Regions from separate parts of the Homo sapiens genome. Here region 1 is linked to region 2. The links come from fine-mapping of genetic effects on gene expression. A gene starts in region 2. The other region holds a variant in brackets. All regions are shown on one strand. Distances are from middle to middle.

Region 1 (4,238 bases), 21 kb before region 2:
CAGGAAGAGGACAGGGGACAGCCAGCTTTCATCTGCATGTTAGGTTCCACATAAAATATCCTAGGAGTTACAGCTGACACAGGTTTTCCAAATCTCTAACTTAGTAAACTGACCCTGGAACCAGCCGCCTCCTCCCCACGCTCCCAAGGGTTGTAGAGAAAGTTCAGGGAAAGGTGGTCCCACCTCCTACAGGATAAGGACCAAGCAAGCCCCTGAGCCTGGTGTTCAGGGCCCTCTCTATCCCAGCGTCTGCTGACTTCCCAGTCCCATGTCCCAGTCCCCCACGTTGTCACGTGGCTCCCCACATTGGACTGGACACCCATGCCTCTGGGACCCGCCAAAACCAAAAGGAAAAGCTGACTGTCGACCCAAAAGTGTAAACGGATCTACTGGCCTGGGAAGCAGGAAGGATGAAAGGGCACATCTCCAGGTCCATGAAGCTGGAAGGAGGCCAGGCCCTCAGGCAGGTGCCCTTCAGGGATGGGAGGTCACAGTGTGATGGGCATCGCCGGGGAAGGGGCTGGGAGCAAGCAGCAGAGTCTCCTCTGAGTCGGCCTCTGCAGGCCCAGCCCCGACTCAGAGGCAGCGCCAGTGTTCACTGAGCCCCTGTACTCAGCAGACAACCCAGAGGGCTTCCTTCAAGTCCTCTCGCCGAGTCTGTGTAGAGGCAGCCAGTCATCAGGGGAAGGAGTGAGCTCACCAGGCTGCTAGGAAGGACCGGAGCTGGAGAACCAGAGGTGGTCAGGTGAGCTGGGGGGGTTCAGGGCAGGAGAAGGGTTGCTCTGTCATCCTCATCCCAGAAGGACACCCAGACGGTCCTTCCCATCAGACGGCAGTTGAAGACTTCCAGATTCTTTCCCCACTGTCGTCCTCTCTGATCCTCACAACAGCCCTGTGAGGTAGGCAGTGGGTGCCTTCCCCCTTTGACAAATGACCACAGCAGGGTGGGAAGCTCCAGGCAGCCCCTCCTCTGCTCCCTCGGGCTGCTCCGGCTGAGGGGGCGGGTGGGTCTGTGGTTCCCTCGCATGACTGGCTCTGGCTTCTGGCAGACAGACCTGCCTGAAGGGACATTTGTTCTAGGAGCCAGAAGCCCACTCAGCCTCTGCTAGTGGCCTTCCCTGACTTCCCAGCTGCCTCCACAGCAGGAGCAGCCCCCAGAGGCGGGGAAGGAGGTGCCTGGGCAACCCCGGCCTGGCCTCCTGGAGAACATGCAGCCTTGGGCCGCCCCTGCCCTAGGACTGTAATGGTTGACCCCATGGCGCAGCCGCCACCTCCTGGGATCAGCTACACCCATCACAGTCATAGACACACAGTAAACACGGCAGACACGCCCTGGAGCCATGTCAGGACACACTCACACTAGCATCTGCAGACTAACACAGGCCCAGGTACACACTCACACACACACTCCTCCAGATACACACACTCCTGAACACACTGTGAACCCACGTGTGCCCTCCCACGCACAGCCGTACACCTGCCAAGGCGGAACCCCGAGGGTGGGATGGAGAAGTCCGCAGCCTCTCTAGGCCTCTGTTTCCCTGAGTTGCTCCCCTCGTCCTCCATCCAGGATGGGGCAGAGGCAGAGGCAGAGGCTGCCAGCCAAGGGGACACTTCCGTAGCAATGTCCCGAGCCCTGGAAGCAGCTTCCTTGGGTCTCCAGGTAGAAACCATTCAGGACCTCCAGGTGCTGGTGCCAGCAGCCAGGCTGGCCTAGATGAGTCTCTCCTCCGGTGGCACCTTGAGGACACTGTCCATCTCCAGCCGGGCCCCAGCCACCTCCTGCTGGCTTGGGCTGTAGGTGCCCTCAGACTGGCGGCGCTTTCGGGCTGCCAGGATCCCTGAAAGGAGGCCCAGGAGGAGGAGGAGGAGGCAGGCACAGGCTGCAGGTACGGCCACCTCCAGCAGTGGGAATGGCAGCGGCAGGGGCAGGCCCTTCTGCAAGAGACACGACACCGAGGCCTAAGACCGCAGAGAAGGGGAGGACGCCGGGGCCCTCAGAGAGCAGAGAGCGCAGCACAAGGACCTACTCAGAGAAAATCAGAGCTGGGAGCAGGCTGCCCTGGGAGCAGTGAAGACCCAGCCCCAGGGGTATGCAGGCAAGTGCCAGGAAACCACCTGTCACAGCCACTGCTC[G/A]GGGAGGCCTATACAACAAAGGAGTTCTGGCTAGAAGGACAGAGATGGGCGTTTATTGAACACCCGGCAGGAGCTAAGCAGGGTGCATGGGTTTCACAGAAGCCTACGAGGGTCTCATGAGGCAGAGCAGGAGCAGGGGCAGGCTGAGCGGCCCCCTGCCACAATAGCAAGGTCAGAATCCACTGGGGCCCACCTGCGGGGGCAGGGTGGCAGGGGGGCCGAGGGGCTGTTATGACAGCTTGTCCCTGCGAGCCTCGGCCCAGGCTTCGGGGAGCCCAGCAAACCTCCCTGGTGTCTCCAGTCACAGGCTCCCAGGATTCCCCATCAAAGCCTCTACATGCCTGGGACTCTGTAGTCCCAGGATGCGAGGATTCCAGAGGCATGGGCTCTGGGACTCACCAGCCTCCCTCTGTACCTCCAGGCTTCCCAGCCCACTGTGACCTGGGTCCTAAAACTTGACAGGAAAGTTCCTCTGGTCCTGAGAGGGTCCTGCCAGCCTCCACCGTTGGACATTTTGAGGGAGGAGCTGTAAAGCCATTTCCTCCCCCTGCCCTGGGGAGGTGGCTGGGTAGGGAAGCCAGAGGCTGTAAAAGTTCAACTTGAAAGGAAACATTCCCCGTAAGCGGAGGGGATTTGTGGTTTATGACCCAGGCTGCCAGAAGCCTGTAGAGATCAAGGCTGCTCCCCAGACTTCCCTTCCAAGCCTCTCCTCGCCAGCACCCACTCCCCCCACCCCGCCCCAGGAAGGGGTGTGGCGGGGAGGTTCACAGCTCCAGCGCCTGCTGCCTTCGTCTGTCCAGGCTCCTCCTGGGCTGAGCCACCCGGGGTTGGGGCCAGCCTGCACAGCGGGCCGAGCCTGCTCCAGTGCGGACTCCCAGGCCCCCTGCCCCTCCGTGTCTTCCTACTCAGGACACTGGCTCAGAAACCCCTGGAGATGAGTCTCCTGGATTCACCAACCTAAATCCCAGAACACCAACATGGCCCTGAGTCCTGGTTGGATTGGCAGAGACCATCTGTCCTCACTGCCACTGCCCTGGGCACTCTGAGGAAGCCGCTGACCCAGCTAGGAGCTTTGTGCTCTTGTCAATAGACGGTGACAGCCCCCAAAGCTCTCCCTGCAGTGGAAATACCTCTTGTGTGGGGGGTGTGGAAGGGACCTGAGGCTCCTCTCACTGCCCCACCCCATGACAGAGTGGCCCAGGAACAGCCCCATGGTGCTGCGCTCTCTCCCCAGCAGCATCTCGCCAAGGGCCCAGCAGGCCACGTCCACGGCCCCTCACCCCTGACAACACTCACCGCCACTTCACAGAACTGGCCGGAGAATCTGGCATTGCAGATACATTCAGACACCCCTCCAGCTGCCCGGCAGGTGCCCCCATTCAAGCAGGGGTTGGCTTCACAGGGGAGAGTGGGGACCTGACACCTGGAGAGGGAGGGGGGCTGAGAAAGCGGCTTCCCCCATGGCTGCCTCTTGTGCTCCCAGCTGCTCTGCTGCCCATCCCCACTTCAGCAAGCATCAGAGCTTATCCATCCACTGTCCCCATGCGCTGCTCCTGCCCAGCTGGGCCCTGCCAGGTGACCACCTGAGCAGCCGTCACTGAGAAGGACTCTCATCCCATTAGGGTGACGGGAGCCTGTGTGAAGGCAGGTGCCCCAGACGCTGACGCCACTGTCTGCAGGGCCCAGAATCTGCACTTTTATGGTCTCCCACAGGCGGGCTGAGGCTGGGTTTCCAGAACTGCCACCAGGCAACCACTGCCCAGCAGCAGTCTGTATCACAGAGGATGGTCTTGCGAGTCATGGAAGGAAACTCAAGTGACAATGGTGACTGTGATACCAGGGAGGGGTGAGAAGGTGGGCGAGGACCCCCGCCCCACCCTGGCTGGAGGAACAGCCCTCCACATTCATTGGACCTCCTCACAGTTCCCAGGCCCCCAGACCCACCTCTGGCCAGCAAGACCCTCCAGGCAGCTGCAGTTGGCAGCGGGAGAGCCACCCTCACATGGGCTGCCATCGAGGCAGGTGACATTCAGGCTGCACTCCTTGGATGGGACAGGCAACCTGGGGAGAGAGCAGAGGCTGGAGTGGGTGCAGGACACCTG
Region 2 (4,238 bases):
CCCAGCACAGAAATGGCAGAGGAAAGGCTGCCCCTGGGCAACCCAGCAGGCCTGATGGGTTGAGTGTACACACCAGTGTCCAGACCCCCCACAGCCTCCATCCACTCTGTGCCTCCAGGTCCCCTGTGAGTGCACACTGAGTGTGAATGCACACATGTCCACATGTGCGTGTTGGGGTGTGCACATTGGTGTGCAGGCACATGCCATGTGTGTAGGTAGGTGCATGTGCTGGTAGATCCACATGTGTCTGTAGCACCTGTCCCTGTGGTGCTGTGTGCCCTTGGGCATGCCACACAGGTGTGCGGAGTGTGGGTGTGTGAGCATCACAGGGCAGGGGACAGAGCACCGATCCACAGACCGGGATCTCACGTGCTTTGTATGCAGAGAACAGAGAGGAGCAGCCACCCCGCCCCCCGCCACCATGCCCCACCCCTCTATGGAGCCCAAGTCGCCTGCCAGCAGAGCCCAGCTCATAAGTCCCCGTCCCTCTCTGAGCCTTGGTTTCCTTCACTGCAAAATGGGGTCCTCATCCTCCCTAGGGCCCCATAGAGAGGATAGGAAATGAAAGCTTTGTGAGTGCGGGAAACATGAGGGTCCCCAGGTGGGACTGGGAGACACTTGGCCCCCACACCCTACAGCCTGTGGAGCTCTGGGGCAGGGAGGGCTCCCCCAGCCTCAGGAGAGCCCAGGCCCTCCTTGGCTCCCTCCCCAGCCTGTGGTGGTGGGGGCAGGGGACTTCCCAGGCCCGGCCCCTGTAACTATAGTAACTAACACCAAGCGTTCCCTTGGACCCCCCAGGAGGAATTCCAGGCTCCGAGAGCTTGGACAAAAGCAAAAAGGGCTTGGCAAATGTGGTCTGGCTTCAGGGAGCCCTTTCAGATTGGCCTTGGAATGCTGGGGAGGGGGCAGCAGGGGACACACACATGTTCCCAAATCCCCAGCCACCCCACAGGGACCCAGAGCATCCCCAGCAGCCCTCAGCACAGGCAGGGCTACCGCACAAATGGAGGGGTGCGGGCAGGCACCCAGCTCCCTGAGTCTCCCTCACGCTTCTCCACTCAGTCCCGAGTTGGGGTCGGCTGTGCACATCCCACACCCCTCATGTTGAGAGCAAAGACCTAGTTCAACCCTGGACAACCTACACCCCACAGCGTGTGCTAGGACACAGCTCACCACACCCAACTCCTCGGACACAACTCACGGCTCACCCCAGACAGCTCATCCACCTCCCAACTCTAACACACCCACAACCTGTGCCCCACAACCCAGCATGCGACACAGAACAAGCTCTGGGGTGAGGCTTATGCCACCTGCAACTCCCCAAACTCAGCCCCTAGAAACCCAGAAGTCCCCCAGCCCTTTACAGGATGCAACACAGCACCTCCCAAAACACGCACCCCATCCCTCACCCGCATCAGCTCCCCCAAATCATGCCCAGCCCCCGATCCCCCAACCCCGAAACTTACAACCCCCCTCAACATGAAACAGCCCCGAGCCTCAGAACACACTCACCTCCGTGGAGCCCCACAGAGTCTGGGGGCCACAGCCGCGCACTCCTGTGCACCCCACAGCTCAGGCCTGCACCCACGCGGACCAGCCCACCCACCACCCCAGCAGCCAAGGCTTGGGGTATCTGTCTTGGGGGACAGACCCTCTCCCAGGCCCCTCCAGACATGGGCCCCAACTCACCAGCCAGGAGGGAAAGGGCAGGGGCCCAGAGCAGCAGTAGCAGGACAGAGGCCAGGGCCTGGGGGTCCGGGGTCCCAGGCCTGGCCAGCGCCATGGCAGCCCGCTCTGCGCTCTGCTCGGCTGCTGTGAGAACGGGAGGGCGGCCTGGCTGGCTCCGCACCCCCCTCGTCCCTCCAACCAGCACTAATGCTGTGGACAGAGGCCCAGCCCCTCCCTCCCCTCCCCGCCACCGCCTCCTCCTCCCACCCAGGCCTCCTGGGCTGCTCCACCTCGTGGACGTCCCTAGACATCAGCCCCAAGTCCTCAAGCCCCCTAGCCTGTGGGGCTGACCTGGTCTTGGCACCCACTGGTTTCTCCCTCCTGACCCTCTGCCCCACTCTCCTCCCACCTCTCAGGTCAGCCTCCTTGGAGAAATTTCTGTCCTTGGAGAGGGGGCTGTTCAGGACTCTCGTCTCACCAGGTGATGCCAGCTACTCCCAAGTCCTTAGTTATCCCCTCTCCTGGATCCCCCTCCCCACCTCTCCAGCCCGGGCCTCTCTCCCAAGCCCAGGCCTTCGAGTCCAGTCGCCTCCCAGACCCTGTCTCTGCTGGGAAGCTGCAGCCCCTCCCACCCAGCTCGTCCCCCCACCTGCTGCTCCCCAGTGCTCCCATCGGAGCCAAGGCACCTCCCATCGGGCAGCCCAACGCCCCCTCCCCACTCCCCCCTCCCCACACTCGGTCAGCCCCTAGCTCCTGGCCATGCCACCTTCTCAGTGTCTCCTGCTGTCCCCACCCCGTCCCACCCGACCACACACAGCTCCTCCCACCATCGGCCTCAGGATCAGCTCCCTGCAGGGCACCTCACCCCTGCACCACGGTGGTCCCTGCCTCCCTTTACCCTCTCCACCCTTCACCAGCCAAACTGAACCTTTCCCAGCTTTCTTCCACTTGACCTTGATCTCTGGCTCTGCTGTTTGCAACTCCAGCGACCTCACTGCAATCCAAAGCAGCCCATTCTACTGAAAGGCAGCTCTAACCAAGCAAGCATTGCTCTCCCCTGCCAGGAAGTCCTTCTTGTTGTCTAACCTTATAGTCTCCTGCTGCACTCGATGTTTGCTTGCTCTCCAGCTGGCCTCTTGTTGGGGTGGACAGGAGGAGCTCTTCAGGGGGACCTGGTTCAGGAAGCCAGGTCATCTCAGAGACACTACAACATAGAACAACATTCCTTTCTTCTACCACCCTCAGCCCCAGTGGGGAGAGAATCCTCTTGCTGAAGGGACTTTCCTGAAATGAGCCACCGGCCCCTGCCAATACATGCCTGTTTGTCCCTATTCAGTAACCGTGGATACAGCCCACGCAGGCCCTGGGCTCTGGGATGTGTCCCTGACACGGGAGGACACAGCCTGGAAAGACAGCAGGAGCCATTGAGGGAGGTCCAGATGAGCTAGAGGGATGGGCAAGGGTCCCCTGCAGTGCAGGGGAGGGAGCAGTGGGCACCACACAGGCCCTGGCCGACCCTCTAGCCCGGGGCAAGTGCCACAGCCCTGGGTCCCCAGGGACCAAAGGAGGGAACCCAAAAAGGCCTGGGTAGACTCCTTATCCACTGCCCCTGCCCCATCCCTGCCCTTGAGGCCTGTTCTCTCCAGGGCAGGGATTGCCCCTTGGTTTCTGGGACACTAACCTCTCTCAGTCCATCTTTAATCCCCTGCCTCTCCAATACAACAGGATCCCTCTCCCCAGGTGGGAGAAGCCCCTCTCCATGCCACAGGAAAAGCAGAGGCCTCACAGCGTAAGAGATCTGGGTTCGAGCCCAGCTCAGCCACTGATTAGCCGGTGACCTCAGCACGTGACTTCCTTCTCTGGGCCTCAGTCTCCTCACCTGTAAAATGGTGGCGTTAGTGAGCCAAGGCGACAGTGCCAGCTCTCTTTATCCAGCTTCTCAGTGATCCCCCAGAGACCCAGGCAATCCCAATGGGGGGCTGGGGGGAGCACGGCAAGTCAACCACCACCCTCTGGTTCTCTGGATGCACAGACACAAACTCCCACACTTTCACAGAGCGGGGAGGTCACCCGGCGCAGGTCCAGTCTCCTCTGCAGCCCGGCCCCCAGCACTGTCCTGCAGCCGCCACACTCCACCTTGTGGCCAGACCTGGAAGTGTCTTGTGAGGTCTGGAGGGTATGGAGGGGGGCTCCCCCGACAGCACCGGGTACAGGAGTCCCACGTGACGGGGAGGAAGCCAGGGAGTCGCTGGACAGCAGGCAGGACGGAGGTCAGACAAGGGCACACCATCTTGACCGCTCCCTGGTCCGGATCTGGAGAAGGCAGTAAGAGTGGGCCAGCTCCTCTGAGATGGTCCCCCAGGTGCATCCACTTCCCCTGTCCTCCCCACCTGGGAAGGGAATCGACATAACCTCAGTTTACCCCCCCCCCACCCACCAGCAGCACTGCAAAGTCAGCATTGGCCCCATTCTATGGATGAGGAAACCGAGGCACAGAGAGGTGAGCAGCCCAGCACCAGTGCCTGGCAGGATTCGAGTTGGGTCTGCCCGACTCCAGCCTTTCCACTGGT

What was found. PIP is the estimated chance that this variant, and not a neighbour inherited with it, causes the effect.
Region 1: its variant is the best candidate, but not a certain one, in a credible set for the expression of CRB2 in uterus (GTEx, PIP 0.74).

What each region holds. Positions count from the first base shown.
Region 1 is chr9:123,374,538-123,378,775 of GRCh38, reverse strand. CRB2 (crumbs cell polarity complex component 2) reads right to left here. Exons shown (of 13, transcript NM_173689.7): 11 at 4,081-4,197; 12 at 3,433-3,559; 13 at 23-1,938. The coding sequence ends at 1,714. Among named protein-coding and RNA genes, the nearest start is that of CRB2, 20 kb to the right of the region's middle. RefSeq lists enhancers at 1,836-2,453, 2,454-3,072. The variant G/A (reference allele first, on the strand shown) is at 2,137.
Region 2 is chr9:123,353,806-123,358,043 of GRCh38, reverse strand. It overlaps CRB2 (crumbs cell polarity complex component 2), which reads right to left and starts at 1,847. Exons shown (of 13, transcript NM_173689.7): 1 at 1,690-1,847. The coding sequence starts at 1,783. RefSeq lists enhancers at 1-166, 3,547-3,716, 3,385-3,884 and silencers at 3,847-3,896, 3,917-4,026.